Linked DNA regions of Homo sapiens: all the other regions are linked to region 1. Evidence: fine-mapped expression QTL. A gene starts in region 1. Each other region holds a variant in brackets. All regions are shown on one strand. Distances are from middle to middle.

Region 1 (4,086 bases):
GGGATCTCCTTCCCTTTCCTTCTGGGGCCTGGGACTTTGTACCTCTGTACAGGAGAGGCAGCAGAGGGCTGGGGTCCTGGCGATGCCTCCACTCTGCCTCCCAGCCTTTGGGGAATGTCTCCACCTGTTATGGCAAGTGTCCCTGTTTGCCTGGGACTTTGGGGGCTAAATTGGAGGCCTTTCTCTTTTTCCCCAAGTTCTCCAGCACACTTAGAAGCATCCGCCCACCCAGCTACACCCCTAAATTTTTCCCTTGATGCCCAGGGCCAGGCATCCTATGGCCATTTGATTACAGATGTCTGCAGGTGGCAATCTGAGTGCCTGTATGCTACTCCTGTGGGCAGCTAGCACCCTGGTACCCCTGGGAACAGAGCGTGAATGCCTTTAAAGCTAGTTGGAGCAGAGAACCAATTCCAGACACCCAGAGACATTTAGATAACTCATTACTAGGGTCCTGGCCCTGGGATCACTCCCAGGACTAGTTCTGTGTCTGTCCAGGTGTGATCCAGGAGTGCAGTGACGGATGTGGATGTGGGATTGGCACAGGACTTCCGCCAGCAGAAGAAAGGAAGGGAGGGGAGGGGAAGAGAGGGCAGGGGAGCAGAGCGGAGGAGAGAGGGGAGCAGTCTTTCCAGCTGGGGCTGGCCTAGGCTGCTGGGTCATTTGGGAAGAAAAGGTGATTTGGACTCAGGGAGACTGAGGGTGCCCTCGGGCCAGCATCTGAGGAGAGTGACAGGGGTTTCCTGGCTCCACAGCCCCAGGTGGCCTTGGTGGGTGCAGGCAGAAAATGACCTTTTCAAGTCCAGTTCCAACCCAGAGGGGGTTCCTAGACCCAGCGCCAATCAAGGGGCACCAGGGAGGCAGCAGAGGTTCCCGCAAATCCAGAGCAGAGTGGCTGCCAGACACCCCACATCCTCTTCGCAGCAGACTGAAGGCCACCCCACACTTGGAGGAGCCCGGGTGAAGCATCTGGGGAAGACCCTCAGCCCTGGGAGAGTCCCTCCAGGGGTGAGCAGGTGGGCTGCCCCTCAGGGTGCGGCTCATTTCGATGTAAGTTTTATAAAATAAGAAAAGGCGCCCTATAGCACCCCTTTGGGAGCCTCGTGTCACCTCCAAACATATACCTCGCTTCCAGGTCAGAAGTAGTGAAATGACCATTGCCAATGCAAATGGAACTGCCTTAGGACACATGGGGGAGGTTAGGGCCTGCTGTGGGGCCTTATGGTGGGCCCCGAGGGGCCCCGCACACCTGTGCTCACCTCCCAGGTCATCGCTGGGCCGCCTCTGTCCCCTGGGAGGCTCTGCCTCGGGGAGCCCTCTTCCCAAGCTCCCAGCAATGACTTCCAGGCCTCCCTCAGCATCAAGAGGAGCCACGTCTTCTTCTTGTGACCCAGCAGTATAATTCACCCTAAATAATGGCAGAATGGGTTGTGTGTAGTCTTTAAAAGTCAAAACAATTTTGCACACAACAGGAGTCATTCAGCAGTGGCTAACACTCTCCTGACCTGTGTCGGCGCTGGGCTCCAAGGTGTACCTCCGCACGCATGGGGTTAACTACGCCCCCATGACCATTCCCTGCAGGAGGGGCGGGACAGAGGACTGCGTTATGTTTCTCCTAAAAGAAAATCATGAAAGTCACACACTCCAGGTGCCACACTTATTATGGAGGGAGGGAAAGCAGATGAGCGGGCGGGAAAACTAGCGGGCTTGCCACGCCCAGGCAGCGCTGCTCGGGTTTCCGCTTCCTCCGCCCCTTCCTTTTTCTCTGTGCATCCTCAGTGACGCGGGGCACAGCTCTGCCCGGGGGCCTACCAGAGCCCACCTGGACCCCACACTGGGTCAGCCCTGGTGCGGAGGAGGCCGCTGTAGGTGGGCACGGGGCAGCACGCGTTAAGGGGCTGGACGGGGGGTGGCCATGCGTGTGAGGGCGCTGAGCAGGGGCGTGCCCATACGTGTGAGGGGGCTGGGTAGGGGCGTGGCCCAGCGTGTGTGTGTGTGTGTGTGTGTGTGTGTGTGTGTGTGTGTGTGTGTGGCTGGACAGGGGTGTGGCCACGCGCGAGGGGGCCGTGCAGGGGGCGTGGCCACGAGCGAGGAGACTAAGGGGCGTGGTCACGCGTGTGAGGGGCTGGGCTAGAGGAGTGGCCCTGTGTGCGGGGGCTGGACGGGGGCGTGGTCATGTGCGAGGAGGCTGAACAGGGGGCGTGACCACGTGTGGAAGGGGGCTGATCGGAGGTGTGGCCACATGTAAGGGGGCTGGGCAGGGGGTGTGGCCACGTGTGAGGGGGGGCTGGGCCGGGGCGTGGCCACACGTGTGCTGGCTCTGCTGTGGGCTTCCTTCCCTTCCTGTGCAGGTGGTGGTGCCCTCTGCGCCTTCACTGGGGCCCAGCCAAGTAACTGAATCCAGCCAGGAGCAAGGGCAGACGCTGGCACAGGTCCTGCCACTGTCCCCAACCTGGGTTTCAACACAGCTGAGGCCTGGCATAGTCTTTCTGGGCGCCTCTGGCTGGCTCGGTCTGAAAGGTGGGACAGATGCAACTGGGGCCTCCCCGGGTGCAGCGTGGGTGGCTCCTGGCTGGGGAAGTGAGAAGCCCTCCGTGCGGTGTCTCTGAAGCAGCCCCAGGCCAAGGCTGTGGCGTGCTTGGTGGTGCTGTAGGCCCAAGATGTTTATGGGTCGAGGGTCCCCGGGGCCGGGATTCTGATCCCTGGTGAGAGGTGGCTGGGAGGAAGTCCAGACGTGTCCTGAGTGGCCATTCCTCACACTGAGGTGACACCGCCTCTCCAAACACGTGACGTGGCTGGAAGCAGATGCTGCTGTCCGGTTCTCCCTCCTCTCCGTCCCTGGCTGGGACATGTGGATCTCACCCGCAGCCACTTTCTTCTGGCCTCTGTCCCCCTGCCTGGGACACGTGGACCTCACCCCCAGTCTCCTTCTCTCCTCTGCCCCCCGCAGGCGCGGCCAGGTCACAGTCGGCACCAGAAGTTTGGCAGATCTCAGTGAGGCGTTAGTTTGCATTTCCTTGTGACGGGTGAGTTGAACACCCTTTCATGAGTGTATTGATCACTGTGTACCTTCTTTGTTGAAATGTCGTCAGTATTTAAAGTCACAAATCTTCCTCTAAGACTATGCTACAATTTTTGTGTAATATTTTGATGGATATTTGAAATAAGTGCTAATTTTCTTTGGATTTCTTCTTTGACCCATGCTTTATTTAGAAGAATCTCTTTATGTGTGTATTTATTTTTTAAACCCTCTATTCTGAGAAGCATATTTAGAAGAGTATTGCCCACTTTCCAAATATGTGGAGAGTCTAAAAGGAATCTTGCTATTACTGATTTAATTCCATTTTGATCAAGGAACAAACTGCAGGATCTCACTTTTTAAAATTACAGAGACTTATTCTTACTGTTTAACATAAGCCCTATCTTTGTAAATGCTCCGTATACACTCAAAAATTACTTGTGTTCTGCAGCTGTGGGGTGGGATGCTCGCCAAGAGTTAATGAGGTGCAGCTGGTTGACAGTGCTCTTTAAACCGGCGAATCCTTCCTGTCCCACCCGCTGTGCTTGCAGTCCCGAGAGAGCTGTTACATCTCCAACTAGGACAGTGAATTTCTCTATTCTTTCAGTTCCGTCCGTTTTTACTTCGTGTTTTTTGAAACTGTTATTATCTTTTTAGGCATTTAGGATTTTTCTGTGATCCTGACAGTGGCTGACCATGGTGTCATCATGGAATGTCCCTCTTTATCTTCAGGGGTGCTACCTGGTCTAATGTGAGTGTTCCAGGGCTATTTTCTTATGCACAGAATTGGCACTGTGTATCTTTTCCTTTTTCTATTCTTTTTTCTTTTTTTTTTCTTTTTCAGACAGAGTCTTGCTCCATTGCCCAAGCTGGAGTGCAGTGGCGCGATCTTGGCTCGCTGCAAGCTCCACCTCTCGGGTTCACGCCATTCTCCTGCCTTAGCCTCCCGAGTAGCTGGGACCACAGGCACCCGCCACCACGCCTGGCTAATTTTTTTGTATTTTTTTTAGTAGAGACGGGGTTTCACCGTGTTAGCCAGGATGGTCTTTATATCCTGACGTTGTGAT
Region 2 (4,086 bases), 44 kb before region 1:
TTTTTGAGATGGAGTCTCACTCTGTCACCCAGGCTGGAGTGCAGTGGCATGATCTCGGCTCACTGCAACCTCTGCCTCCCGGGTTCAAGCCATTCTCCTGCGTCAGCCTCCAGAGTAGCTGGGATTACAAGCGCGTGCCACCATGTGAAGCTAGTTTTTGTATTTTTAGTAGAGACGGGTTTCACCATGTCGGCCAGGCTGGTCTCGAACTCCTGACCTTGGATGATCCGCCTGCCTTGGCCTCCCAAAGTGGTGGGATTACAGGCATGAGCCACCGCACCCAGCCTGAACTAGTTTTATCCTTTGAAGCCAGCCCTTACCATCTCACGCCCCCTTCTCTTCCTCAGCAGTCCCTGGGCCTAGACAGAGGGTGCTTGATATGGTATAGCTTCAGCAACAGCTCCAGGAGACTTTGAATGAGAGAGATTTGAGAGATAAATGGCATTAATAATTTGAGTGGTAGAATTATAACGTACAGGCATAATGTGTCTGGAGTTGGTTCCTTTGGTGGTTTCGTGGTCTCGCTGACTTCAAGAATGAAGCCACGGACTTTTGCAGTGAGTGTTACAGCTCTCAAAGATGGCACACATCCAAAGGGTGAGCAGTAGCAAGGTTTATTGTGAAGAGCAAGAGAACAAAGCTTCCACACCATGGAAGGGGACCTGAGCAGGTTGTTGCTGCTGGCTGGGGTGGCCAGCTTTTATTCCCTATTTGTCCCCTCCCATGTTCCATTTTTGTCCCATCAGAGTGCCCTTTTTTCAATCCTCCCTGTGATTGGCTACTTTTAGGATCCTGCTGATTGGTGCATTTTACAGAGTGCAGATTGGTGTATTTTACAGAGCGCTGATTGGTGCATTTTACAATCCTCTTGCTAGCTACAGAGCGCTGATTGGTGCATTTTTACAGAGCGCTGATTGATGTGTTTTACGATCCCCTTGCTAGCTACAGAGCTCTGACTGGTGCGTTTTACAATCCTAGCTACAGAGCTCTGATTGGTGCGTTTTACAATCCTCTTGTAAGACAGAAAATTTCTGCAAGTCCCCACGCCACCCAGGAAGTCCAGCTGGCTTTGCCTCTCAACAAGAATTTATGCGCCCCTAACAGGAAGAAAGGAATCAACCCCATTAGGGAGCCAACTAAAACGATCATGAAGAAAATTACAACCTGGATCCTCTTTAGAGATGTGTAGCCAAGAGATAATTCAAGACTCAGTTTGAATTATAGGCAAAAAATAAAACTCAAGAACAGTGGTCGGGGCTGGAATTGCAGAACAAGTGTTTTCTTTTGAAACGTAATTTTTTTCATCTCTTTAGTTCCCCCTTTCTACCACAGAGAAATAATAATAAGACCAATTTGTGTACAAAATAAGTTTTAGTCTTATTCTATTTGGCTTGATCATTTGTGTAAATTGCAGCAGGAATAGCAGCTGGCCGTGTAGGCTCTTTTTAAATTGGCTTTGCTGGAACTTTATCGGAAAGTGTTATTTCAGTCAAAGGTCTTGTTAAAATAATATCCCCAAAGTGTCCTGTTACAAAAGAAAATGTATTCTTATTGAACTTATGCAAACCACCATATTGCTGTAAGTAAGAATGCTCATGAATAGTTTTTGAATTCTGGAGGTAGAAGGTAGAGAGAGAAAGCTGAACTTTGTTATTTTACTCAGTTTCTGTCACCTATAAATAGGTTAAAAGAAAAAAGGTTTTCTTGACTTTGGAAAACAAAACAAAGAATCAGTAACACTTTAAATACAAAGGCAATAAGCGCTGTTCAGTTCTGATAAGAACAGGAAAAGGAAGCTCACAGGTAGCTAAACATCTAAAGTATATAGTACTAAGACATAGAGCAAATTATATTAATTCAGATAGAGGGAAAACTATGAAATGTCTTAACGTCTTGGAGTATAAACCCAGCCCTGTGTCTCATGAAAGCCGTTCACTTCGATGGTTGTCTTCCCCCGGATCTGAAGACAAGGCTTTGGTTAGCTTGAGTTTGGTTTCAGATACCAGTGTGGAATGTTCAAGATTCAGCAGGAGTTGGTGCCTTTTTTAGGTGATGTGATACGGTTTGGCTGTGTGTCCCCACCCAAATCTCATCTCGAATTGTAATCCCCATGTGTTGAGGGAGGGACCTGGTGGGAGCTGATTGGGTCATGGGAGCTTGTTTCCCCCACGCTGTTCTCGTGATACTGAGTGAATTCTCTCGAGATCTGATGGTTCGATAAGGGGCTCTTCCCCCTT[T/C]GCTCTTTCTCTCTCCCCTGCCATGATGAACAGGATGAACGCAAAATTAAATTAAGACGTACCTTGCTTCCCCTTCACCTTCCACCATGATTCTAAGTTTCCTGAGGCTTCCCCAGCCATGGGGAACTGTGAGTTAATGAACCCTCTTTTGTTGATAAATTACCCCGTCTCAGGTAGTGTCTTTACAGCGTGTGAAATCAAACTCATACAGGCTCTCGGGGCATTTGTAGCTGCAATGCTCCCTGCCTGGGATGCCTTTCCTTTGCATCTTCCTCTGGCTGTCACCTCTTTTGTTTATAAATTACCCAGTCTCGGGCAGTTCTCTATAGCAGTGTGAAAACAGACTCATACTCTATGTGTGCCCAGGAGTCAACTCCCTGTAACTTGGTAGCACATGGATTTGTTAATAGTACCTTTTAAGGACCCTTCCAAAGTGCAGGGGAAAGAGTCCTGTAACTGATGTTTCTTCCAGTGTATGTAATCAGCAGGCTGGAGGTGGTGATTTTGGAGTTCATGACACAACTGGAAGCTGCAAAAAGATTTTACAGGCCAGGTGTGGAGGCTCACTCCTATAATCCCAGCACTTTGGGTTCACTTGAACCCAGGAGTTCGAGGCTGCGGTGAGCTATGACTGTGCCACTGCACTCCAGCCTGGGCAACAGAGTGAGACTCTGTCTCAAAAAAATATGTATAATCTCGTAATGATTCATTTTTATAGCTTTGATGATCCTGCCTGCAATAAGTCTAAGTGAGATGCTTAATGTAGGATTTGATTTTGAGGACTTTTGTGAAAGATGTTAAAAGGCTCAAAACATTTGATCAAAATAGAATCCTAGGTCATTGTAAAATAATAGTTACTCATGTAACCATTGCCATCTTCAATGGCAAGGCAGAAAGTTACATGGATGTAAAAACAAGCTCAGTTTTCATAAGCAATCAAAAAACCAAATAAAAATGACACTGGAAATTATCTTGATAAAATGCAAAATCTTCGTTTTTTGAGGCCAGTTACTCAAAAGGCAAAGAAACACCTTCTGCAGTCATTGTTTCTCCTCTGGAAGCCCATTGAGCTAACCTGCAAGTCAAACCTGATGAAAAAGGATATTTGAATTTAGTCAGGTGCAGGAAGAGTGTGTCTAGGGTCATGAGTGTACCTGATGTTATGGAGGAAAGGAAACAAGAAAACCAGCACCTTGAGCAGGGCAATGCATGACTCTTAGTAACAGCATGAGAAGTTTCCTGGCTATACTGAACAATGTATAACAAGAAAAGCCAAGAGTACAGAATCAAGTTATATGAAGGAAAACATTGCTTTTCTAGACCTTTAAGATCAACATTTCAGCATCAGGCCACAGCAGTAGTTACAATTGGAAAAGAAAGTTACAGGAGCTGATGAAAAAAAAGGCTGAAAGGGAAGGTTATCATCCCAACCAAGCAAAAAGATACACCTTGGCAAGGGCACAAGAACAGAAGGCAAGGATCAACACAGAATTAAACATCAATTTTTTTTTTTTTTGAGATGGAGTCTTGCTTTGTTACCAGGCTGGAGTGCAGTGGCACAATCTCGGCTCATTGCAACCTCCGCCTCCCAGGTTCAAGCGATTCTCCTGCCTCAGCCTCCTGAGCAGCTGGGATCACAGGTGTCCACCACCACGCCTGGCTAATTTTTGTATTTTTAGTAGAGACAGGGTTTCACCATGTTGGTCGGGCTGGTCTCGAACTTCTGACTTCAGGTGACCCACTTGCCTCGGCCTCGCAAAATGTTGAGATTACAGGTGTGAGCCACCGCGCCCACCTAAACATCAAATTTTATTAATAGCAAATTATTATTTTAACAAAACTTTTCTCT
Region 3 (4,086 bases), 280 kb after region 1:
TGTTTTACAGAAAGTTTTGTGAAGAGATGACAGAAAGGGTTATATCACATCCACACAGCAATAACTCCTCAAAAGCAACTTTTGGCCGGGTGTGGTGGCTCATGCCTGCAATCCCAGCACTTTCAGGGGCCGAGGCGGGAGGATCGCTTGTGCTTAGGAGTTTGAGACTAGCCTGGGCAACATAGCAAGTCCCTGTCTCTACTTAAAAAAGAAAAAAAAAATGAGCCAGATGTGGTGGCACGCAGCTGTAGTCCCAGCTACATGGAAGACTGAGGTGGTAGGATCACTTGAGCCAGGAGGTTGAGGCTACAGTGAGCCATGATCACACCACTGCACTCCACCCTGGGTGACAGAGTGAGACCCTGTCTCAAACTTTTTTAAAAGGCCAGGCATGGTGGCTCATACCCATAATCCCAGTACTTTGGGAGGCCAAGGTGGGTGGATCACTTGAGCCCAGGAATTTGAGACCAGCCTGGGCAACATGGTGAAACCCCATCTCTACTAAAAGTCAAAAAAATTAGGTAGGTGTGTTGGTATACATTTGTAGTCTTGGCTCCTTGGAAGGCTGATGTGGGAGGATTGCTTAAGCCTAGGAGGTCGAGGCTACAGTGAGCCATGATTGCACCGTTGCATTCCAGCCTGGGCAAGAGTGAAACCCTGTCTCTCTCTGTCTCTGTCTGTCTCTCTCTCTCTCTGTCTCTTTCTCTCTCTCTGTGTCTCTCTCTCTCTCTCTCACACACACACACACACAACTTATAAGCATCTCTTGTTTCTCCTAAAATTACCCTTCTAGCATTAGCTGTCCCATTAAAATTCTAATAGGCTTTTTTGTGGACATCTGCAAATTAATTATAAAATTTATATGGAAATGCAAAGGGCCAAGTAAGGGCCCTTAAAAGGGACAAAAATGGGAGAAATTACTAGATACCATGGCTCACCATAAAAGCTGCCTTGATTAAGACAGTGTGGCAGTGGTCAGCAAACAGTGGTCTGCCCCTGGGCCAACTCTGCCCACCATCTGTTTCTGTATGGCCCATGAAGCAAGAATGATTTTTACATTTTTAAATGGTTGAAAATAATTGATTGGTGGGGACAATGCTGGTGGAGTCTGAAGTTGTCATGCAGTGACTCACTCAAGGTTAGGCAGATTTGGTGATATATGACACAGAGATGCAAAGAAATGCTGTAGCTGACACACACAGGGTGGCTCTGGGAGATGCAGAAGGAGCATGTCACCCAAAATAGAGCCAGATAGACATCTTTAAGGAAGGAGCAAAGGGGCTGCATCTTAAAGAATGAAGAAGGGATTTGTCATGAGAGATGGGGCAGGAAGTTCTTGAGAGGCAGAGGGAGAGCATGAGAATGCTGGGAAGGGAGGAGAGATTCTCACACATCTGGGAAGCTGACAATTCATCAGCATGTCCGGAAGGAAAATAAGGAGGAGGAGCAGAAATAGATGAGGCTGGATATAGAAGCAGGGCTGAAGCTGTGTTGATCGTGGTAAAGAGTTGTGATTCTATCCAGAAGGCAATAGGTAGCATTCTAAACAGAGATCTCTTAAAACAAGAGTCAGCAAATATTTTCTGCAAAGGGCTAAATGTTAAATATTTTAAGTTTTCCAAGCCATATGGTCTCTCTCTTAATGACTCAGGTCTTCCATTATACCATGAAAGTAACCAGAGACGTTTTTTAACACATGTA[T/C]TGGCTGTGTCCCATTACAACTTTACTTACAAACGCAGACTGTGTCAGACCTGGTCCATGCATGGTAGTTTGCCACACCCTGTTTTAGAAAGCTCAGGTTTATGATGTGATGGAGAATGCCTACAAGAGCTCTTGTTTTAAATGGTAGAGTGAATATACACTGGAATTCTATCCTGCTTGACCCAAGCTCTTGATAGCGAAAGGTAGAAAAGATAGATAGTAAATAGATAGATAGATGATAGGCAGGTAGATAGATAGATGATAGATAAAGAAAATACATAGCTGTTCCAGAAAACAGAAATGGATAATTTCATGAACCAAAAGCAGAGTAATATACTTTAGAAAGGAAGCAGGCTGGAAGACCCACAGTTGCAAAGCAAATAGAATTTCCAACTGCCTCTTGTAGCCCCTTCCTGGAAGTAGTCACAGCCCAGGGTGTTCAACTTCTTCCTCTGTTTTTTGTTTGTTTGTTGTTTGCTTTTCTGTGGGGTTTTTGTTGTTGTTGTTTGCTTTTTAAAAAAAATCCCTTTCCCTGCTTTTTTGTCACAGCAGCCTTTGTCACTTCAAACACCGCAAGTGTTCTTTAAAAAAAATTATATCAACCTTTCAACTAAAATGCAACATGTCTGAAACTTGGTATCTGGAGAGGTGAGAGGGACAAAGGAGCCGTTGTTACTGCACGTTTTCATTCTCCAAACTTCACCTTGCACACAGTAACAGACAATGCACAAAGCTACTTCCTTATGGACGGAAATTCTGAAATCCTTTTATGCCTGGCCTTTCCATCCTTCAACTTCCCCTCTCCCATGCTGTGAGTGATTGTATTGGACATTTTTGTTTTAATCTCAGTGACAGGGGAACACAGATAGCTCTAATATAGCTGTGACCCAGATGCTTCTGTTTCTAGCATGTATTAATTTTGCAGCAAACATTACATCCATAATTTTTCACTGTCCTTTGAAAATAATTAGGCAATATCTCATCTGAGGTAGGATGTTTCTAGGGGTTGTGTTCTGAGTGAGAAAAACTAATCTGTTCTCTTTCCACTGCATTCTAGGAACAGTAAGAGGACCTTGTGCATGAATAATTTGTTTCCACACTGCAGAGTGGGTAATAAGCAGATTAGTAAAAACAATTCTGCTTCACTTCAATAACAGCCTCCTCCAACTCATTTTTTCTCAACAAACTTATTTTTGCAGCAGAAGAATCCCAGACTTCTTAGAGAACCCAGTGACTTTTTGCACCTTAAATCTGTGAAATCCTCATGCTTTCTTCTGCCGTATCCATCGTTCAAACAAACATGAGGCAAAGCTAGACACATTCCTGAAGGAACCCAAGAAATTCCTCTCTTTCTCTCTCTGGAATGAAATGAATTCTCTAGACCACCAGTTCTAACCTTCAAAAACCAAACCTGTTTGTGAGATCTCCTTCAAATACTACTGTAGACCCCAGTGTTTATTCATTAAATTTTTTAAATATTTGTTTTATTTGGAATCAAAGTATTTGTAATTTTAGTATTTGTATTAATATAAGGGAGAAATGTTTAAATCTGTCTATGCCATATGTGCCTTCGGCTTATTGCCCAATTAATTGTAGCCTCAGGCTAAACTTTGGTTTCTGTCTTTAATTTTTGTCGGAAGAAATATAACCGGTCTCAAAACATCTGCTTTTATTGTAGGGACTCGTGCTGCCATCTCCATTCCTCTCTCTTTTCTTGCAATCTGGGTGGAAGTTCTTTAATATGAACATTTCAACCACCTTCACTCTACCATGTCCACTATCAGCACATTCAAACGTATCCAGCCAAGGGTATCATCTTAGGCCAGGGATTTTTTAGGAATCTATTTTGCTGTGATGCACCTGGTACCCCTTTGACTCACTTTATCACCCCAGGGTTCTTTTCATTTTAGAAGCCCAAGAGGGCAGAAAAAGAAGTAGGTGAGCAATTAAACTCTCCAAGTCAGGAGCGTCTCCCCTTGTGTTAAGCAATGTTGTAGAACATCGTATTTAGCAAGCTCCTAGCAGATGAGCCACGTGGCTGCTGAGCACACACGCCTGCTTGCTGCTGTGAGCTCAGACACCATCATTATGTCTTTTTCACCTCTGGAGGGAATTGTAAGCGCCACTTAATAACCTGTAAATCGTAGAGAGTTAAAGGTGTTTCCCTAAAACACTGATGACAGAATGAAAGGTAAGGAGTGTTAGCCACAGGTCAAAAGTGCAGGAAAGTCTCTCTATGTGGGTTGTTGAAGAAATGCAGGTCTTTTTTCTTTTGGAAGTCTCCCTAGAATGGGGTCAAGGACTCTGCCCATTCTAGGATGAAAAACTGGGATATTAGACACCCTCAGATATTTATCCCAAGCTTTCATTTTGGGCTCTTAATTA
Region 4 (4,086 bases), 68 kb after region 1:
TTCTCATCTGGTTCTTGCAGAGTCTCCTGCTGAGCCTGGTCTTCTGTCCACACCTGGGTGGTGGAGGGCGCCCCAGGAGCCTCTTTCTCCCCCTGCATGGGAGGCCGGGTCTGCTCAGCCAGCGCCCTCACCTGCGGTCGGTGAGCTGTGCACGGGGAAGCAGAGCCTGGCGGCCACGTCGGCCTCCTGTGAGAGGGTCGAGGGCTCCAGCCCCGAATGGGACTTGAGCAGTGCTTCGGCGACGTGTCTGTGTGTGTTCATGTGTGTGTCTGTGTGGTGTGTATGTCTGTGTCTATATGTGATTGTGTGTCTACGTGTGATCATGTGTGATTGTGTCTGTGTGATGTGTGGGTCTGTGTGTGATAATGTGTAATCGTGTGTGTCTCTGTGTGTGTCTGTGTGTGATGTGTAATCATGTGTGTCTCTGTGTGTGATTGTGTCTGTGTGTGATGTGTAATCATGTGTGTCTCTGTGTGTGTGTGTGATTGTGTCCGTGTGTGATCATGTGTCTGTGCATAATGATGTGTGTGTCTTGGTGTGTGATGGTATGTTTGATTGTGCATGTGTCTGTGTGTGATTCTGTGTGTGTGATGGTGTCTGCACATGTGATTGTGTCTGTGTGTGTGATGTGTGACCGTGTCTGTGTGGCTGCACGTGTATGTGTCTATGTGTGTATGTGTGATGGTGTGTCTGGTGTGATGGTGTGTGATTGTGTGTGCGTGATGGTGTGTGAGTGACTGCATGGGTGTGATGGTGTGTGTCTGTGTGTGATTGTGTGTGATGGGGTGGATGTGTGATTTTGTGTGATGGTGTGTCATTGTATGTCTGTGTGACTGTACGTGTGTGTGAGGTGGGTGAGCAGGGCTGCGGGGCACAGGGCAGAGGAGAAAGGTTGCATGTGGGGGTTGATCCCTGGCTGGAGGAGGCTGGAGAAGCCCTGGTGGGCAGGGACGCGGTGGCCTCTCCGGACCCCTTTGCTGCAGCATCACAGAAGGAGACGCAGTCTCTGTCCAGCTTGTGGGCACGGAGCTCCCACTCTGGATCTTCTCACTCTTCGATGCTAAGGGGGCGGCTCCCGGAGGGTGGGCTGGTTGCCAGTAGAACCGGTGCGGGTCAGCCCGGCGCACCCAACCCCACCCCACCCGAGAGGGAGAGGCCCGGATGGGGTCAGTCCCCAGAGGCCTGTGGCCTAATCGGTCATGTCTGGAACCCCATAAAAAACCCCAAATGAGGGTCCAGGGGCCTGCATGGCAGTGACCATGGTGGTTCCCGGAGGCCCCCCAACCTCTCTTTTGCCTGGCGTGTGCCTCTCCCAGGCGGGTGACAGTGAGGCGCCTCCACGTCCTGGGAGCTGTTCTGCTGAATCTGGAAGCCGGGGGCCAGGGGTGCTCCATGTACCGTGGGCGTTGGAAGTGGGGGCGTCTTGTGGGCTCAATGCCTGTGGAGAGTGGGTGAGCCCTCCCTGGGCCGGGTGGGAGTTGAGGACTTACTGGTGTGAGAAGAAACCTGTACAGCCGCGGTCAGGGGGCCGTGGGGAGAGCAGCACCGGGGACCCCACCTCACAAGGGGGACGGAGGCAGAGGGAGCCAGGGGAGGCAGGAGCCCTGGCTTGGGGTGTGCTTTGGGTGAGGTCCTCTCATCTCTTATGTGCCCCCTCATCCTCGCTGGCCCTAACTCCAGTTCCCAAATTGCTCTGAGGGAGGACTAAAGTTCCAGAAAGGCTGTGTGAGCCAGCCACCAGTGCCAGCACGAAGCTGCGGGGACCACAGCACCCCTTGTCCTGGGAGGTGCCTGCTCCCCCACAGCCTGTCCCCCCGAGAGGAGCCAGGCTCCCCCCATCTCCCATGCCCTTAGAGGAGCCACGCTCGCCCCAACCCCCATCCTTCCTGGAAGGAGCCGTGCTCCTCCTATCCCCCGGAATCCTCCTTAAGAGAGGCCATGATCCTCGGTCCTCCTGTCCTCCCTGAAAAGGGCTGTGCTTCCCCTGTCTCCATCTTTCCTGACCACAGGTGCTCCACCTGGCCTGTGCTGGAGGCTGGGAGGGTGGGCCTAAAGGGGGAGTCTGTGTGAGGGAAGCGTGTCCCTGTGTGTGTGTGCATGAATATGTGCACACATGCGGCTGTGTGGGT[G/A]TGTTTCTCTGTTTCTGTGTGCATGGGTCCGTGCATGAGCACAGGTGTGCATGTGTGTGTCTGTGTGCATGGGTCCGTGTGCGAGCACAGGTGTGCATGCGTGTGTCTGTGTGCATGGGTCCGTGTGTGAGCACAGGTGTGCATGGGTCCATGTGTGAGCACAGGTGTGCATGTGTGTGTGCACACGTGTCTGTGTGCGCATGCTGTCTCAGGGCTTGTCTGTGCGTACAAGTGTCTTTCTGTGTTTCATGGTTGTGTGTGAACACACGTGTGTGTCTGCATATATGCCTGTGTTTTCCCGTGTCTGTGTGTGCGTGTGTTTGGGGTGGGTAAGGCTCCATTGTTTAGGACGTGTGTGACCTGCCTCGCCATCTCCCCTGCCATCCTCTGGGTCATTCTTGCACAACAGTGACCTGCTGTTTGGAGCCGAATGGGCACAGTGAATAATGCGTTTCATTTATTTTCACAAACCTGTGGTTGCAAAGCCAGCGTGAGACGCAGGTGAGGCCGTCACACCCCTCGTCCTGGCGGAATCCACGCCTCCTTGGGCCCCTGCTGCCAGGACCCCACACCTCTTTAGAGTAAATAAACCTTGGCGTAGGGGCAGTTTACGGAAACGAGAGAATTGTGTAACCATCGACCCTGTGGACAGGTTTGACTCTTGGGTTTGAAGAACCACGGTGACGTCTTCCTGATGCCGCTGCCTCCTCTTGTCAGTGAAGGGAGTGGGACTCGCCGGAGAAAGAAGCGAAGGCTCCAGCCCCGGCTGGATGAACCCTGCAGCTGGTCCTCACCGTCTCGGGAGGCAGCTCCGGCTTCTGTCCACTAGGTGGAGCGCTTGCTGTTTGCGATGAAATCGTGGAGCCTTGAAAATTCCCAGGCTGGCGAAAGGCTAAGGGGCATTGGGGGTCAGCAGGCGGGGCCCGTGCTGGTTGGAGCTGCTGGGGCTGAGATGGAATGGCGATGCCATTGGGGTATTCCCTGTGGGAATGCAGCTGCCGTCCGCAAGCCCCCGCGACCTTTCTCCAGGCAGAATGTGGAGCCCCGAGTGGGGTTAGGGCCGTGTGCTGCAGGGCGGGGCCTCGCCTGGTCGCGTGGCAGCCTCGAGGTTTGTTGCAGGTGATGGGGTGAGGAGCAGCTGGGCCCCACTAGCTCTTGGCCGCATTGTCCCTCCTTTCACCCCCAGAAGTTACCCCTGCACTGTAAACCCCATGGGGCATTGAGCCTCCTATTTTCTTCTCCTGCTTCACAAGTTTAGAGTGTTTGCTTAAATGCAATGCTTAAAGCCGCCCAGATGTTTGAGAAGATAAGTTCAGTGAGAAACAGGAGGCTTCACCTCAAAGCATTTAAGGCTGCTGTGAGAAATTATCCCCATCCTTAAAAGCCTCCAGATGTTTGAAACTCCTGTTTTGTGTAAAATAACAGCAACAAATAAGTAAAAACAAAAACCTCCATACCGACTGCATTCCTTTCAAGTGTTTAACTGTTTAACTTCAAAGTCAGAAGTGCCCTAAACTCAAAAACGGCACCAACAACTACTTGAGTGGGACTCTTTTGTTTGCAGTCATCAGGAACTCAATTCAAGCTGATAAAAGCCAGAAAAAGAATGTCATTGAAGGGGCAGGGGTTGTTGATGTATGCAATTACTAACTGCAAAGGGGCATTCAGGAATGGGTGGATCTAGGGGCTTCAGTGGTCTCTATCTCTTACCCATGCCTTCCTCTGAAATGAGTCCCCCAGATTTCTCCTCCTGCCAGCTCCTGGCAGCCACGGTCATTTCTTTGCAGCCTCAAGTCTACTCTGAGATTTCCTCTTCCCAGCAGTTCAAACAGGAGCCTCTGATTGAGACGCTGGCACTGGCTGGGGCCTTGTGCCCACCTCTGAGCCCATCACTGCAGTGGGGCATTGGGTGCTCTCATCGGCCAGGCCTGGGTCACGGGACCATCTTGGAGGGCAG
Region 5 (4,086 bases), 230 kb after region 1:
CCAGGCTGGAGTGCAGTGGCGCAATTTCCGCTCACTCCTTTGCCCATTTGTTAATGGGGTCGTTTGTTTTTTTGCATAAGTTCCCTGTAGATTCTGGATATTAGGCCTTTGTCAGATGCATAGTTTGCAAATAGTTTCTCTCATTCCGTAGGTTGTCTGTATTCTCTGTCAATAGTTTCTCTTGCTGTGCAGAAGCTCTTTCATTTAGTTAAGTTCTACTTGCCAATTTTTGTTTTTGTTGCAATTGTTTTTGGGAACTTAGCCAAAAATTCTTTGCCAAGGCCAACGTCAAGAAGAGTATTTCCTAGGTTATCTTCCAGGATCTTACAGTTTGAGGTCTTACATTGAAATCTTTAATATATTTTGAGTTAATTTTTGTATATGGTGAAAGGTAGGGGTCTGGCTTCAGTCTTCTGTATGTGGCTAGCTAGTTATTCCAACACCATATATTGAATAGGATGGTCTTTTTCCACTGCTGCTTTTGCTGGCCTTGTCAAAGATTGGATGGTTGTAGGTGTGTGGCTTTATTTCTGAGTTTTCTGTTCTGTTCATTGGTCTGTGAGTCTGTTTTTGTACCAGTACAGAAGCTGTTTTGGTTACTGGGGCTGTATAGTATAGTTTGAAGTTGAGTAGTGTGATGCCTCTGGCTTTGTTCTTTTTGCTTAGGATTGCTTTGGCTATTTGGGCTCTCTTTTCATTCCATATGAATTTTAGGATAGTTTCTTCTTGTTCTTAAATGCATTTTATAATTAACTTGTTTAGCTCTAAGAAAAAAACTTGATTTTGTATTGGAATAGCATTAAATTTAATATTTTTTAAAAATGTTTCATCTACTTCTAACTTACTGCAAAGAGTTTTATAAAGTTGCCTGTAATGATTTTTTAATGTTTTTCTTCATTTTTATAAAGGAAACATCCTTGTAACCACACCCAGGTCAAGGAATAGAACTTTATCAATCATCCCAGAAGCGCCCACCACATGTCCCATTTCTATTATAACCTACTTCCTCTCCTCAAAAATAACCACTTCCCAAACTCTTAATGGTAATCATTTCCCTAATCTTTATAGTTTTATCACCAAGTGTATATCCCTAGACACTATAGTTTAGTGTTGTTTTATTCTTAAAATTTGATATGTTTTTAAAGTCTCTTTTAATCTACACATTTTTCTCTCTATCCCTTTCTTTTCCTTATCTTTTACAATGTTTAAGTTTTCTTCTGTTAGCACTTGTAACTTTCTTATTTTTTTTTTTTCTAATCAGATACCTAGTGGTTTGTTTTGGTTGATTATTTTCTCTTGAGAGCCAGCTTTTGGATTTACTTCTTAGTTCTATTCTTTTTCTACTTAATAATATCTGCTTTTATTTGTAATAATTCACCCCTTTCTTTTGGTTCACTTATTCTTTTTCTGGCTTTTTCAGTTATATGTTTAAATAATTTATTTTTATTATTTAAATTTGTGTTGATATAGGTATTTAATGCTATAAAGTTTCCTGTGACAGTTACTTTTTTTCTGAGTCCTATAAATTCTCTATATATTTTCCCAGCCTTTTATAGCTGTATATCTTATATGCAGTATGGTGTTTGATTTTGCTTTGTGAGCCAATCCAAGACTGTTTTCCATTTAATAGGTGAGCCAAGTCCATTTTTTACATCACAGATAACAGGGAACCACCTTGTTCTATTTTATTTGCTTTTACCCTTTTGGTATTTAAGAGGGCTTTCTTCCTCCCTTTTTTTTCCCACTTTTATCCTAATGCCTTTATAGCAAACACTTAGTTTCTTTGGTTGGCTCCCCATAGTACCTGATACTGCAGTTAGCTGATGGACACCCCAGTCCCAGTTGGCTCCTGCACATCTTCTGCCCGCCCCTACCACTTCTCTGGTGGTTGTTCTTTGTCTGCATTGTCCAAGCTGGTAACCATGGCATGCTGCACTTTTATCACCGTCATGTGCCAGCAGCTCCACAGATAAATACAGACCACCTGCAGCTCACCTTTGCATCTGCCTCTAGTCATTTTGGTTTCTGGAGCTTATTCTTTAGTGGGTCATCCCTCAGCTCCTGGTCACTGTACTTCCTGTGTTTGTGTGTACTCATAAAAAATATGTGTGACTTTTACCCTTGATAGTCACTATTTAGATGTTAAATCTTTGGCTTATATTTTTTCCCTTAAATATCTTAAATATGTTACTGAACCTATTC[T/C]ATTCTGGACCTGTAATCCCTACTACAAAGCTACTCACAAGTCCAGTTTTCATCATTTCTGGACATGCATTCTTAAGGGGGAGGAATTTATAGAACTGGAAGCCATGTTAATATCCTAGTCATGAGGTGGCTGAGATTTAGTCTGTCCAGGTAAGATGGTGCAGGTAGGGAGTGTGGTGGTCCAAGTGGCACACGCAGGAAGTCACAGAATGTGGGAGGCATTGTTTTGTGTACCCTGTGCACAGAGTGTCTGATGCCCTTTGATAGGTTTGCGGCCTCATCTGGTGGACTTTCTGGCACAGCCCTTCCTCGAGGTTGCTGCATCTGAAGCTCTTTAAGACGGCGTTTCCCTTCTGCCAGATTGCACTCTGTGCACAGTGCGGTTGCTTCTCCCTGCGGAATGAGATGGGCCCACATAGGCAGTGGCTCCACCTGGCCTTGGTGCTCTTGCCGCCCTCTGCTCTGCTGCTCCCTTCGTGTAAGAAGGGTGTGTTAAGAGTCCGTAAGTGTGTCGTGTTAGATGTTTAGGAAGGAAATGTTAATTCTGAAAATAGGTTTCACATCTTTTTTTTAACTTATATAAAATTGACTGGACTTTCTCTTCTGTGTGTTGTGTTAGATATTTAGGAAGGAAATGTTAATTCTGAAAATAGGTTTCACATCTTTTTTTTAACTTATATAAAATTGACTGGACTTTCTCTTCTGGATTATCTTCTTATAATTAGAGACTAATAACACACTGATACGAAGTAGCTTTATATCAGGAAAATGGATAAATGTAAACATTTGCCTACCAGGAGAAAATAATACGACCTGATTGGAAAATGTACAGATAAAAAGCTAAGTTTAGTAGGTAGCCATTGATGAACACAGTCTAACTTAAGACAACAATTGGGGATTGTTAGAGCAGAGATTGTAGCTCCCTTCTGGGGAGGAGCTGACCAAAATGTCCTCCAGCTCCTGCTTGACAGAAGAGGTGCAGCCAAATTGATCCAAAGGAAATGTCAGAGGAGGCCAGGGTGGGAATTATCAGCAACTGTGTTTGAGGATTTGTTCCACTTTGTTTTGGTTTTGGTGAAATTATCACAGTCTGCATGTTATATGACCTTGGCACTTAGAGTCATGGCAACTTGTTGCATTTATGCGAGATTTTTTCTCCCTAAAGTCTCTTCTGTTTGATAGCATATATGTACCTTTCATAATCAATATCAAACTGAAGTAGCTTGAAAAGATAGATAATTTTATTCATTTTCTGGGATTCCATAACCACAAACTCGGTGGCTTAAAACCACAGAAATGTATGTCCTCACAATTCTGGAGGCCAGAAATCCAAAATCAAGGGCTCGGCAGGGTTGCTTCCTACTGGCAACTCAGGGAAGTTGAGTTTATGAGTATGTATTATTTTTTATTATGTGTAGTGTAGTACTTTAATAATTATTAAAAATTAAATCATTCACAAATGTTGGTCATTTTTCTTACTGGTAACAAAAGTTTTGTGACATATCTTACAGCAATATAGTTAAGAACTGATGCCCTTGATTAGCAATTTTAAAAACCGGAGGCTTATCCTAGCCTGTCTTATTTTCCTAGACTTGTGTGGAAATGATTTGAAGATGATGGCCCATAACAGCACATTTCTGTAAAGCCTGTGCTTAGAACCCTAGAGTGGTCTGGGAGATGAAGATTAAGACCTTGTTATCCATCTCTTAAGGAAAATACCATCAGAGGAAAATGCAAATCTTATTATAGGTCATCACTAGAATGAGGATTGTAATTTATAGAAATTGGGGTTTAATTATGAGAAATAGTTCCGTTCTTGGCTCTCGTTTACTTCTATTTGGAGATGTTTTGTTGATTCTTCTCTATTCTCTTCTCTTCCTTTTC
Region 6 (4,086 bases), 240 kb after region 1:
GGCCACTGAGTGACTGGCAGGTTGCTGGGCCTCGTGTAGCTGCGGGGGGGAGGGGGGGTCAGGAAGGGGATGGAGTACCAGGGGAACACGGCCACAGAGTGAACTTCCACATTCCTCCACACGAACATGCTGACGCCACGGGAGGCCTCACTGAACGCAGGCCTGGGGGCCGAGTACTTGGTCTGGGCAGGGGGTTCCTGGCAGGGGCTCACACCTCCTCGCCCCCTCCTCAGCCAAGGTGGCTTGGGCCCAGAGAAGGGGAGGTTGGAGAGGAGCAGAAGGCCAGGCCTCAAGTTTTTTTTTTTGTTTGTTTTGTTTTTTGTTTTTGAAATGTAGTTTGACTCTTGTCACCCAGGCTGGAGTGCAGTGGCACGATCTCAGTGGCCTTCATACCTGGCTACTTTTTTGTATTTTTACTGGAGGTGGGGTTTTGCCATGTTGGCCAGGCTGGTCTTGACCTCCCGACCTCAGGTGATCCACCCACCTCGGCCTCCCAAAATGGGATTACAGGCATGAGCCACCGCTCCCAACTTCATTCATTTTTACTTGAAAAACTCCCTTAAGCATTTTTTTTTTTTTTTTTTTTTGAGACGGAGTCTCGCTCTGTCGCCCAGGCTGGAGTGCAGTGGCGGGATCTCGGCTCACTGCAAGCTCCGCCTCCCGGGTTCACGCCATTCTCCTGCCTCAGCCTCCCAAGTAGCTGGGACTACAGGCGCCCGCCACTACGCCCGGCTAATTTTTTGTATTTTTAGTAGAGACGGGGTTTCACCGTTTTAGCCGGGATGGTCTCGATCTCCTGACCTCGTGATCCGCAGCATTTTTTTAAGGTAGACCTAGTGGTCCTGAATGCCCTCAGCTTTGTTTGTCGAGGAAACACGTTATTTCTTCTTTCTTTCTAAAGGACAGCTTTGTCAGACATAGTATTAGTTGCTGGCAGTTTTTTTCTTTCAGCACTTTGAATGTATTATTCGATTCTGTCCTGACCTGCAAAGTTTCTTTAACTTTTGACTATTTGATTATATTGTGACTTGGTGAGTATCTATTTGGTTTGAACCTCTTTAGGAATCTTTAAGCTTCATGGATTTAGATGTCTAAATCTTTCCCATGATTTAGGCAGTTTTCAGCCATTCTTTAAATGAGCTTTCTTCTCCTTTCTCTACTTTCCTTCTCAAACTCCCATAACCTGACAATGGTTTGCCTAATGGTGTCTTGTTGGCTTTCTTTTCTCTGTCTCTTTTTTTTTCTTTTTTTTTTTTTGAGACAGAGTCGTGCTCTGTCACCCAGGCTGGAGTGCAATGTGTGGTCTCGGCTCACATTGCACTCCAACCTCCGCCTCCTGGGTTCAAGCGATTCTCCTGCCTCAGCCTCCCAAGTAGCTGGGACTACAGGTGTGTGCCACCACACCAGGCTAATTTTTGTATTTTTAGTAGAGATGGGGTTTTGTCATGTTGGCCAGGCTGGTCTTGAACTCCTGACCTCTTAATCTGCCTGCCTCGGCCTCCCAAAGTGTTGGGATTACAGGCTTGAGCCACCACGCCCAGCCTTCTTTTCTCTTTTTTATTCTTTTTTTCTTTGTCCTCTGACTGGATAATTTCAGAAGATCTATATTCAAGTTTACAGATTCTCTCTCCTGTTGAAGTTTACTATTGTGTTATATCACCCAGTCTGGTCTTGAACTCCTGGGCTCAAGTGATCCTCCCACCTTGGCCTCCCAAAGTGCTGAGTTTACAAGCATGAGCCACTGCATCCGGTCAGTCCCAGCACTTTGGGAAGCTGACGTGGGAGGATCACTTGAGCTCAGGAGTTTGAGACCAGCCTGGGCAACATACTGAGAACTTGTCTCTATATTAAAAAAAAAAAAAAAAAGGTCTTTGGGAGGCCAAAGCGGGAGGATCACCTGAGGTCAGGAGTTCGAGACCAGCCTGGCCAACATGGCAAAACCCCATCTCTACTAAAAATACAAAAATTAGACAGGTGTGGTGGCACACGCCTGTAGTGGTGGTGCATGCCTATAGTCCCAGCTACTCAAGAGGCTGAGGCAGGAGAATCACTTGAACTGGGAGATGGAGGTTGCAGTGAGCTGAGATCGCACCAGTGCACTCCAGCCTGGGCAACAGAGTGAGACTCCATCTTATAAAAGGAAAAAAGAAAGAAAAGAAAAATTCCGTATCTGAGTGTTTACTCCTGAGTTTTTGAGATTGTTATTAAGATCGTGCTCTACTGTGATGATTTGGGTTTGTTTGATAATCACAAAAAAGCATATTCTTTTGGGTGTTCAGCCACACTCCTTTGGTGT[C/T]ACAACTGCACATTGGTTTCACAGCTGCAGGACAAATTCGAGCATCTTAAAATGATTCAACAGGAGGAGATAAGGAAGCTCGAGGAAGAGAAAAAACAACTGGAAGGAGAAATCATAGATTTTTATAAAATGAAAGCTGCCTCTGAAGCACTGCAGACTCAGCTGAGCACTGATACAAAGAAAGACAAACATCGTAAGAAGCAATAGTTTCTCTTACTATTCTGAGAGCCTTATCATTCTACATCCCATCTTCCTGTGAGATTGTCTTTGTAGCATTTAACTCTAATTGCAGTTCTCTTTTTAAAAATTGGCTTGCTTATTGTATATTTTCCCCAACTAAAGCGTGAACTCCTAGTAGGGCGTGATGGCTCATGCCTGTAATCTCAGCACTGTAGGAGGCCGAGGTGGGTCGACTACCTGAGGTCAGGAGTTCGAGACCAGCCTGACCAAGATGATGAAACGCTATCTCTACTAAAAATACAAAAATTAGCTAGGCGTGGTGGCTGGGACCTGTAATCCCAGCTACTTGGGAGGCTGAGGCAGGAGAATCACTTGAACCCTGGAGGTGGAGGTTGCAGTGAGCCGAGATCTCACCATTACACTCCAGCCTGGGCGACAAGAGCAAAACTCCATCTCAAAAAAAAAGGGTGAACTTGAAGGCAGGTCCTGTGTCCATCTTTTCAGATTCTGTATCCCAGCACTTGGGACATAGACAAACACGAAGATGACAATCAATATTTGCCAAAATGAAAAAACAAACATGTAACATCATGTAAAAGAAGCTGGTTAGCTGGAGAAATTTCTTTACCATAGTCTTGCTTGTGGATCCAGTAGTGACTTTTACATTTTATATCTAAATAGAAGCTGGAGGCTTTGTTGGGTACTCATAGGCATAAAATATTATGTTATTTATTATAGAGTTAAATGCTACAAAGACAAATCTAATTAATAGGCCTATTTTCCTTTTTAAGTTCTACTCATAATTTCTTCATAGTTTTTATGATAAAAGGTTGGATTTTGATTAGAACTCCCATGCTTTTGTGTCAGAATTAAAACTGGTATTAGAATAAATAATTCAAAAGCTAGAGAAAGAGTACAATGAGAAGCCATGAGTTGCATTTGAATTATAATATTATGTCTTACAGATTTGGGGTATATGCTAAAGTTACCAAAGTTGTAGAAAATAAGGCCGGGCATTGTGGCTCACATCTGTAATTCCAGCACTTTGGGAGGCCGAGGTAGACGGATCTTTTGAGGTCAGGAGTTCGAGACCAGCCTGGCCAACATGGTGAAACTCCGTCTGTACTAATAGTACAAAAATTAGCCAGGTGTGATGGTGTGCACCTGTAGTCCTTGCTACTCAGAAAGCTGAGGCAGGAGAATCGCTTGTACCCAGGAGGCAGAGGTTGCAGTGAGCAGAGATTGTGCCACTGCACTCCAGCCTGGGTGACAGAGTGCTATGAGTCACCACACCTGGTATGAGCCACCGTGCCTGGCCCACAATGACTTTTACACATGTTGTTAAATCATCTTACAGATTTTATAATTTGGGGGAAGAACAGTTTTACTAAATGGTCTTTTAATGGAAACTCTACAAGAACCAGAATCTTTGCTTTGTTCACTTATGTATCCATTCCTAGGCCTAGAAAAATGTCTGACACATAGCGGCAATTATTCATTGAATAAATGGACCCAGCGATAGTACATTAGCTATGCTATATGCATACATTAAAGATGTAGATTATTGACTTTCAAAAGATAATTAATGTAACTTCTTACTGCTGAATATG

The links. PIP is the estimated chance that this variant, and not a neighbour inherited with it, causes the effect.
Region 2: its variant is fine-mapped to the expression of LINC01237 in whole blood (TOPMed, PIP above 0.99).
Region 3: its variant is fine-mapped to the expression of LINC01237 in tibial artery (GTEx, PIP above 0.99). The same link has a PIP of 0.9 or more in vagina.
Region 4: its variant is fine-mapped to the expression of LINC01237 in whole blood (INTERVAL, PIP above 0.99).
Region 5: its variant is fine-mapped to the expression of LINC01237 in whole blood (TOPMed, PIP above 0.99).
Region 6: its variant is fine-mapped to the expression of LINC01237 in whole blood (TOPMed, PIP above 0.99). The same link has a PIP of 0.9 or more in T cells, blood mononuclear cells, breast, lung and pituitary.

The regions. Positions count from the first base shown.
Region 1 is chr2:241,879,610-241,883,695 of GRCh38, forward strand. LINC01237 (long intergenic non-protein coding RNA 1237) reads left to right here and starts at 1,754. Exons shown (of 4, transcript NR_110220.1): 1 at 1,754-1,869; 2 at 2,951-3,026. LOC105373978 (a long non-coding RNA gene) reads right to left here and starts at 1,718. Exons shown (of 3, transcript XR_924077.3): 1 at 1,506-1,718; 2 at 1,260-1,408. RefSeq lists an enhancer at 1,184-1,774.
Region 2 is chr2:241,835,256-241,839,341 of GRCh38, forward strand. No RefSeq gene overlaps it. Among named protein-coding and RNA genes, the nearest start is that of PDCD1, 22 kb to the right of the region's middle. The variant T/C (reference allele first, on the strand shown) is at 2,238.
Region 3 is chr2:242,164,287-242,168,372 of GRCh38, forward strand. No RefSeq gene overlaps it. Among named protein-coding and RNA genes, the nearest start is that of LINC01881, 78 kb to the left of the region's middle. The variant T/C (reference allele first, on the strand shown) is at 1,702.
Region 4 is chr2:241,948,027-241,952,112 of GRCh38, forward strand. All of the region lies in intron 2 of LINC01237 (long intergenic non-protein coding RNA 1237), which reads left to right. Among named protein-coding and RNA genes, the nearest start is that of LINC01238, 21 kb to the right of the region's middle. RefSeq lists enhancers at 1,986-2,634, 2,635-3,282. The variant G/A (reference allele first, on the strand shown) is at 2,130.
Region 5 is chr2:242,107,367-242,111,452 of GRCh38, forward strand. All of the region lies in intron 2 of LINC01881 (long intergenic non-protein coding RNA 1881), which reads left to right. Among named protein-coding and RNA genes, the nearest start is that of LINC01881, 21 kb to the left of the region's middle. The variant T/C (reference allele first, on the strand shown) is at 2,203.
Region 6 is chr2:242,119,967-242,124,052 of GRCh38, forward strand. The region is part of intron 3 of LINC01881 (long intergenic non-protein coding RNA 1881); the gene reads left to right. It also overlaps the pseudogene CICP10 and the pseudogene SEPTIN14P2. Among named protein-coding and RNA genes, the nearest start is that of LINC01881, 33 kb to the left of the region's middle. The variant C/T (reference allele first, on the strand shown) is at 2,297.